2 linked regions of the Homo sapiens genome follow. The protein of the gene in region 1 interacts with the protein of each later gene in a pairwise test. Each region holds a gene or a part of one and is shown on either strand. Other genes may lie near its edges.

Region 1 (3,755 bases):
TTCCAAATTATTGGTTCCTATTTTCCATAGTTCTTTCTAACCGAAGATAAGTAACCTACTATATTATTCTAAGTAGTTACCAAAAATAAAATCCTAGGTGTTATGTTTAAATAAATGGGGAGGCAGGAATTGCAGTTTTCTTTCCCCTCGTTAAAAAATTCAAAGACAGGTGGTATGGTGGCTCACACCTGTAATCCAAGCACTTTGGGAGGCAAGAGGCGGGGGGATCCCTTGAGCTCAGGAGTTCACAACCAGCCTGGGCAACATGGGGTAACCCCATCTACATCAAAAAGACAAAAAATTAGCTGGGCATGGTGGTGCACACCTGTAGTCCTAGCTACTTGGGAGGCTGAGGTGGGAGGATAGCTGGAACCTGGGAGGTGGAGGTTGCAGTGAGCTGAGATTGCACCACTGCACTCCAGCCTGGGTGACAGTGTGAGACCGTCTCAAAAACAAACAAACAAAAACCACAAAGACAATGTAGAAAGATGAAATACACTCGGATTATTTATCTGATTGATATCAGAATAATTTAAATGTTGTAGGTAAAATATTTAGAATAGGGGTGACAGAACTACTCAAAACATTCACTTAAGATACACAATTAGTTTCTAAAATATGCACATTCCTGGTTTCATATTTATACATATGGTATTTTGCTTAATACCCAAGATGCAAAAATACGAATACATAGAAGATATCAAATCTATATGATAAAAATTGTCATATAATTTATATATACTTCATAGCCTTCTAACAGAAGTGATACATTTTTTTTTTCCTGATAGTGGCAACTCAATTTTTCTTTGGAATAAAATAATTTTGGAACGAAGGAAATCTGCAAATATTCTCGTCCTTACTTTCAATGTGAAGATCTTGTCAAATTTTTTCAAATCAAATGAGGGACTATAAAATATGTTTCAAAACATTTTAGTAAATAAGGTATTTATCCGTATCTATCATGTGAATGTACTATTCAGAAAAATTCCTGCAAAACTCTAGTATAACGCAGAAACACATTAAATTAAATTAAGTGTAATCTTAGTTCTGGGGAGAAAAATGTGTTTAAGTTGCTGCACTTTTTTTTTTTTTTTTTCAAAATTGTGTGTTTGTTAAGTCATATTGAAATATGTATCTGTATTAAGTTATAGCAGGATATTTAGTTCTCCTGTATTACTACTGAGGTATATTTGTTCACATTTATTTATACTGAAAGACACTAATGTTCAAAAGTTAGAATAAATACAAAAATGCATCTTGTACTTTGCTGTTTTAACCACTTGATACCTTAGGTGTACATCTTCCTTTATGATAACAAATACCAGGCCACAGACTGATTCAGCTTTAGTCATATAATACTGTAACACTCAAATGGGTTTCAAAATATAAACATCTCTGCTCTTGGATAGTTTTTTTGGGGGGGATTATCCTTCAATACATAACAGATGCAAGTATGTGCAACTGGGTGGTAGGAGGGAATTATTTTTATTATGAAAAGGGATGGATCCTTTTCAAAAAGGGACAGATCATATTTATTAAAAATAATTCCCTTAAAAACTTTAGATCTTGGGCCACATTTCACAAAAATTTTGGAATGATATTAAACAGTCTTTCCTCTTTTTAACAGCTGGATACTAAAAGTCACCCAATTTAATAGCCTTTAAGGCAATAATATGGAATCAAGTCTCAAATTGGATGCAATATTCTGCTGCAGATTACTTGTTGTCTAAGTGCATCAATTCACTGGTTGGGCAGTCCATAAAAAAGAATTTAAGCTAACTCAAATATTTGGGAGGAAAAAAAAGAAGAGAGAGACTAAAGCATGTCAAACTTGCTTCCTGAGAAATTGTCTCATTGCATAAGTTAAGCATGAGAATTTCCACCTCTGTAAATCTCTCATGCAAAAATAGGCTAACACCTAAAATAAATCTGTCATTATTTATATTATTTAATAAATGAAAGGAAATAAAATAAAAGTTGAAATCTGGGCCGGGCGCAGTGGCTCACGCCTGTAATCCCAGCACTTTGGGAGGCCGAGGCGGGTGGATCACGAGGTCAGGAGATTGAGACCATCCTGGCTAACATGGTGAAACCCCGTCTCTACTAAAAATACAAAAACAAAAAATTAGCTGGGCGTGGTGGCAGGCACCTGTAGTCCCAGCTACTTGAGAGGTTGAGGTGGGAGAATGGCGTGAACCTGGGAGGCGGTGCTTGCAGTGAGCCGAGATCACGCCACTGCATTCCATCCGGGGCCACAGAGCAAGACTCCGTCTCAAAAAAAAAAAAAAAAAAAAAAAAAAAAAAAAAAAAAAAGTTGAAATCTGTTGTTTCTTAAATCATATCTTCCAGATTACCTAAAACTAAAATCACGACCCAAAATCTGAAAAACTATAATTTTAAATTTTATTATATAGGTTTTCTCAATAACTTCCCAACACAAAGCAAAAAACACCAACCATTCCCAAAAACTACAGATACATAGTTGAGTCTATAAGTTAGAAGGCAGAAAAATATTAACTTCAAAGAGTTTAATGATGAATTAGTACTGTATTTCTGAAAACATTGGTGATACTGAAATAATACACCAATAGACATGACCAATATGATCCTGGCAAAATGCACATCTCGCTGGTCAAGCAGAAATATATCCTTTTACAAATGTTCTGAGGAACAATGCTTAAAATTATACAAGGGTTTAAAATATAATTTTAATGAAGTATATATAAAGTGTACATGAAAAGGGGAAATATGAAATCTGGCAAAAGTCTTTTGGCTTTCTTACAAATGGTATCCTTATAATTCCCCAACTATCAGAGGATGACATATTTTTCTAGAAAAAATAAAACGACTGCAATTGTATTTCCTATGATGCTTTATGTATCAGAGTCACTTGCAGATTCTGGTCTGCTGTCATCTGGCCCATCACTTTCCTTGTCCCAGTCTTTCATAGATGCTCCCATCATGAAATCATCACGTAGGATCGTCCAACCTGGGCCTTCTTCTGATTTCACTTCAGTCTAAGGAAAATTATAGAATCAAAATATTCAAAAGTCAATTCCATCATAAGGAAACAAAAAGGTACAAGCTACAAAACAAACTTTTCAATGCTTAGTTTTTAAAATAGGGGTAAAACCAAGAGAAATTATAAATCGACTTACTTTATACACTATGATTATACTATGATTATATATGTACAAATGTATAATAAAGAACTAAACATTAATAAAATATTGTATGGACTCCATAAAAGAAACATGAAAGCAAAATAAAAAAATTTTTTTGAAGTGAGGGAAAAAATATAAATCTAGGTTTGGTATTAATTTTTTAAGCACTTCTGACAACAAAAAACAGACTTACAATACTATTTAACCTTCAGTGATAATTTACTAGAAAATTTTGGGCAAATTATTTCACCGCAACTGACAATTTAACAAAGGCATTTAACCCAAAGTAAATTAAAAGTGGGAAAAAGAAACTACATTGGTACTATGCTAGGTTTTTTAAGATGCCATCTCACTTAATGTTTTTATAAAAATTTGAACCAAATGTTCTTTATTTAGGTTATGAGCTCACTGCCTGACCCAATCATGTAATCAAAGACTAATCGTATGTTGAAATTATAAATAAATGAAGCAGGCAATAAACATAATAGGTAGTCAATTCGTTTCATTTAGTCACAGGATTTATGTGGTACTAATTACAGCCTTTCATTTCATGGTACAACAGTACCACCTTGTGGTATCAATTAAGTAATA
Region 2 (3,755 bases), on another chromosome or scaffold:
CAGAATTCACATGACATTGTAATTGTCATTGCGGTGGTATTAAGAGGTGGGGCCCCCTACTCTTGCAAATGGCTTAATGCCTCATAAAAAGGCAGCGGAGAACTAGCTGAGGCCTGTTGACCTTCCATCCCCTCCACCACGTGAGGATGCAGTGTTCCCAGCAGAAACTAATCAGCCCACACCTTTATCTTGGACTTCCAGCCTCCAGAACTGTGAGAAATGATGTCCGTTCTTTTTTTTTTTTTGAGATGGAGTCTCACTGTGTCACCCAGGCTGGAGTGCAATGGCGTGATCTCGGCTCACTGCAATCTCTGCCTCCCAGGTTCAAGCAATTCTTCTACCTTAGCCTCCCAAGTAGCTGGGACCACAGGCATGCACCACCACCCCCAGCTAGTTTTGTTTTTTTAGTAGAGATGGGGTTTCACCATGTTGGCCAGGCTGGTTTCAAACTCCTGACCTCAAATGATCCACCCGCCTCGGCCTCCCAAAGTGCTGGGATTACAGGCGTGAGTCACCGTGCCTGGCCTGAATGTCTGTTCTTTATAAACTACCCAGTCTTAGGTGTTTTGTCACAGCGGCCCATACTGCCTGAACCACGACTTTCTGCGCTAAATGCCGTGTTGAAGAGCCCAGCTCTGGCGCCGGAGGCTGCGCCCAAGGCAGGCACGGCTGTTCACGAGTTGCGTCACCTTGGGCACGTCATCACCTCTCTGAGCCCCGAAGCTCCTCGACAGAAGTGGAATCAACAGTGCCCATTTCATTCAAGTTGTCCGGGCGAAGAAAATGGAAAATCATGTCCCTTAAGCGCAATACCTGGTAAAAAATCTCACACTGAACTGCGGCCATGACAACTCCAGCATCACCCAAGGAGCCTGGACACCGAGAAGGGCAGAAGCCTGTGCGGCCCAGCCCCCGCAGCGCGGCGAGGAGGCTGCACCAACCCTTGGTCTTCAGTCACTCAACCTCCCTGGCCCATTCTGTTTCCCAACTTAAGAAACAAAACAAAACATAGGTATAGAGAAGGATTTCACTATCGAAAGAGAAAGCGCACTGACAAGTGATCACACTGAAGCCAAGCTGGAGAGCCACATCCTGGCTAAACGCAGGGCCATTTTCTATCCGGGTCACCTGCCATCAGGTGGAGTTAAGGCCGATATTGCCCAATCGTCCTAGTTTTCAAGCAGTTCCAGAATTCCTGTTATGTGAACTCACCTCGTTTAACACTTGCTGTAACTCTCAATAGAGGATGTGAAGCACGCAGCACACACGTGCAGCTGAATGCTGGCCAATGTGGGCCGCTGAGTGGGCCGGGCCCAGGCTCACACCAACCTGGCACCAAGAAGTCAGAGCTCATGAATGTCGCTTGTACCATGCTCCACTATAGCTACATCCCCTCACACTGCCGGTCAGGGAGACTGAGGCCAGTGAGGACCATGGGAAAGTGCTGTGCCATCTGGAAGGTGTACGCATCATTAACATTTCACGAAGCCTTTTCCACCCCTAAACCCCCAACTTCAGGCTCTGCACTGAGGGGTCCCCGGACCAATGTGTGGGTGACACTGGACGGAGCGGGTGAGCCTGTGCTTCTCTACAGCACCTCCATCTCTATGCATCCACACACGCGTATGAAGATACAGGAGGTAAAGTGTGGACCCCTGGGAAGGTCAAAGTCCTAGTGGAGGTGAGATAAAAATTAGGCTGTCCACTTCCAACTCCAAATCGAATTCTGAACACATGATGAATTTATCATTATATTTTCTATCTCCAAGATAAAGCATTCACAGCAATATGAATAGGTTAGTTTATTTTGAGAGAGAGGAAGACATCATTTGGGTTCTGTAAACATCAGTCACTTTATTATGCCTCTGTCTGGCTGAAAAACACCAGCTCCTGCTGACTCCACAAGGGCACGGCTGCAGAGAGTGCTGCCTGCCAGGTGTGAGGTTTCCAGTTAAAAGTTTCAGCAGGGACACCATTTGCTGGATGTGTTTAAGATTAAAATTGCTTCGTAAAATGTGATAAATAGGTTACTATACACCTTGGTCAATATAGTTAAAGCACCAGCAATCAAAATACACCGCTCCGGGCCGGGTGAAGTGGCTCACGCCCGTAATCCCAGAACTTTGGGAGGCCGAGGTGGGCAGATCACTTTTAGTCAGGAGTCAGAGACCAGCCTGGCCAACATGGTGAAACCCTGTCTCTACTAAAAATACAAAAAATCAGCCAGGCATGGTAGAGGTACCTGTAATCCCAGCTACTTGAAAGGGTGAGGCAGGAGAATCCCTGGAACCCGGGAGGTGGAGGTTGCAGTGAGCCGAGATCACACCACTGGACTCCAGCCTGGGAGCCAAAGCCAGGCTCCGTCTCAAAAAAACGAAAACAAAAACTAAACAAAAACAAAACACTGTTCCGAGAGTTCCATAAAACATAAGGAACGTAAGTCACACATGATTCTCACGAGCAGCCGACGTTTTCCACGTACATTTCAAAGGTGCTTGTGATAAAAAATAAACTTTGAATTTTAATTGCACGTTTATATCAAAACACTCACACACACACACACACACACACACACAATTCTGTATGTCTGTTAACAACATTGCTAAATTGCTGTGTAACTTCTACCTGGGTATAAAACAGTAGAACAATGTACCTTGGGACTCATCATCAGGCAGCTCATTGCCAGGGGCTGCTGCAGGACCACTCTAGGGACCCCAGGACCCTGCAGTCGAGCATCTCTGAGGGGTCCAGGTCCACCCTACAGCTCAGGGAGAAAATGACATCACTACTTGTCTTGAAATCTACAGAGGAACACCAACCACAGAATTAGGGTCTAGATTGGGTGCCTGTAGGTAACTCAGTCAATTAAAAACAGCTCTGAAACCCAGACAACCTGATTATGAAATCCTTACCTTATTTTGTCAAATGAGCAACACAGTATGAATAATAACTTCTCATTTTAAAACAGGTACCATGATTTAAAAAAAAAAAAAACTTGCAAGATTTCATCTTTACCAGCCCACGCTCTGGTTGGTGGGGGTTAAACTCCAAGGCGTCTCTGCTGCTACAGGAGTCACTACCCCTCAGCGTTGTCTTTGTACCACTTGCCACCAGATGGCACTGCCGTACACTTCGGTCTAGAATTTTTTTTTTTTTTTTTTTTTGAGAGAGAGTCTTGCTCTGTCACCCAGGCTGGAGTGCTGGAGTGCAGTGGTGCGATCTCAGCTCACTGCAACCTCCGCCTCCCGGGTTCAGGCAATTCTCCTGCCTTGGCCTCCCAAATAGCTGGGATTACAGGTGTGTGCCACGACACCCGGCTAATTTTTGTAATTTTAGTAGAGATGGGGTTTCACCATCTTGACCAGGCTGGTCTCGAACTCCTGGCCTCAAGTGATCCACCTGCCTCGGCCTCCCAACGTGCTGGGATTACGTCGGGTGTGAGCCACCCCACCCAGCTTAGAATTTCATACGCTGGGAAGCTTTAATAAGGAACAAATCATGTTATTTTCTATCTTAGCCCAATTCTCTCCAACTGAAAAGAATGTGACTTCTGAATAAGACACACGGCATATGAGTGTGCAGCTGGAAAGAGTCAACGCTGACCCACCCGCCCTGTGGGAGGCACTTCACTATGAAGCCATTTCCAGCATTCAAAGCCACCCCACTCCTCAACAGGTGTGACGCCCCGATGCCTGGACACCATGGACTCCTCTCCTAGATGCTTGACACGGTCCGGCGCGGCTAAACTGACAGAG

Evidence for each region. The genes of interacting proteins can lie anywhere in the genome.
Region 2: the proteins of RRP15 (region 1) and CLN8 interact in a two-hybrid assay, tested with the Homo sapiens proteins (one study listed by BioGRID).

The regions. Positions count from the first base shown.
Region 1 is NC_000001.11:218,330,210-218,333,964, reverse strand, and holds part of RRP15 (RRP15-like protein), read right to left. Parts: intron 3,018-3,755; coding exon 2,874-3,017; 3' UTR 1-2,873.
Region 2 is NC_000008.11:1,780,775-1,784,529, reverse strand, and holds part of CLN8 (protein CLN8), read right to left. Parts: 3' UTR 1-3,755. UniProt on the Homo sapiens protein: Could play a role in cell proliferation during neuronal differentiation and in protection against cell death.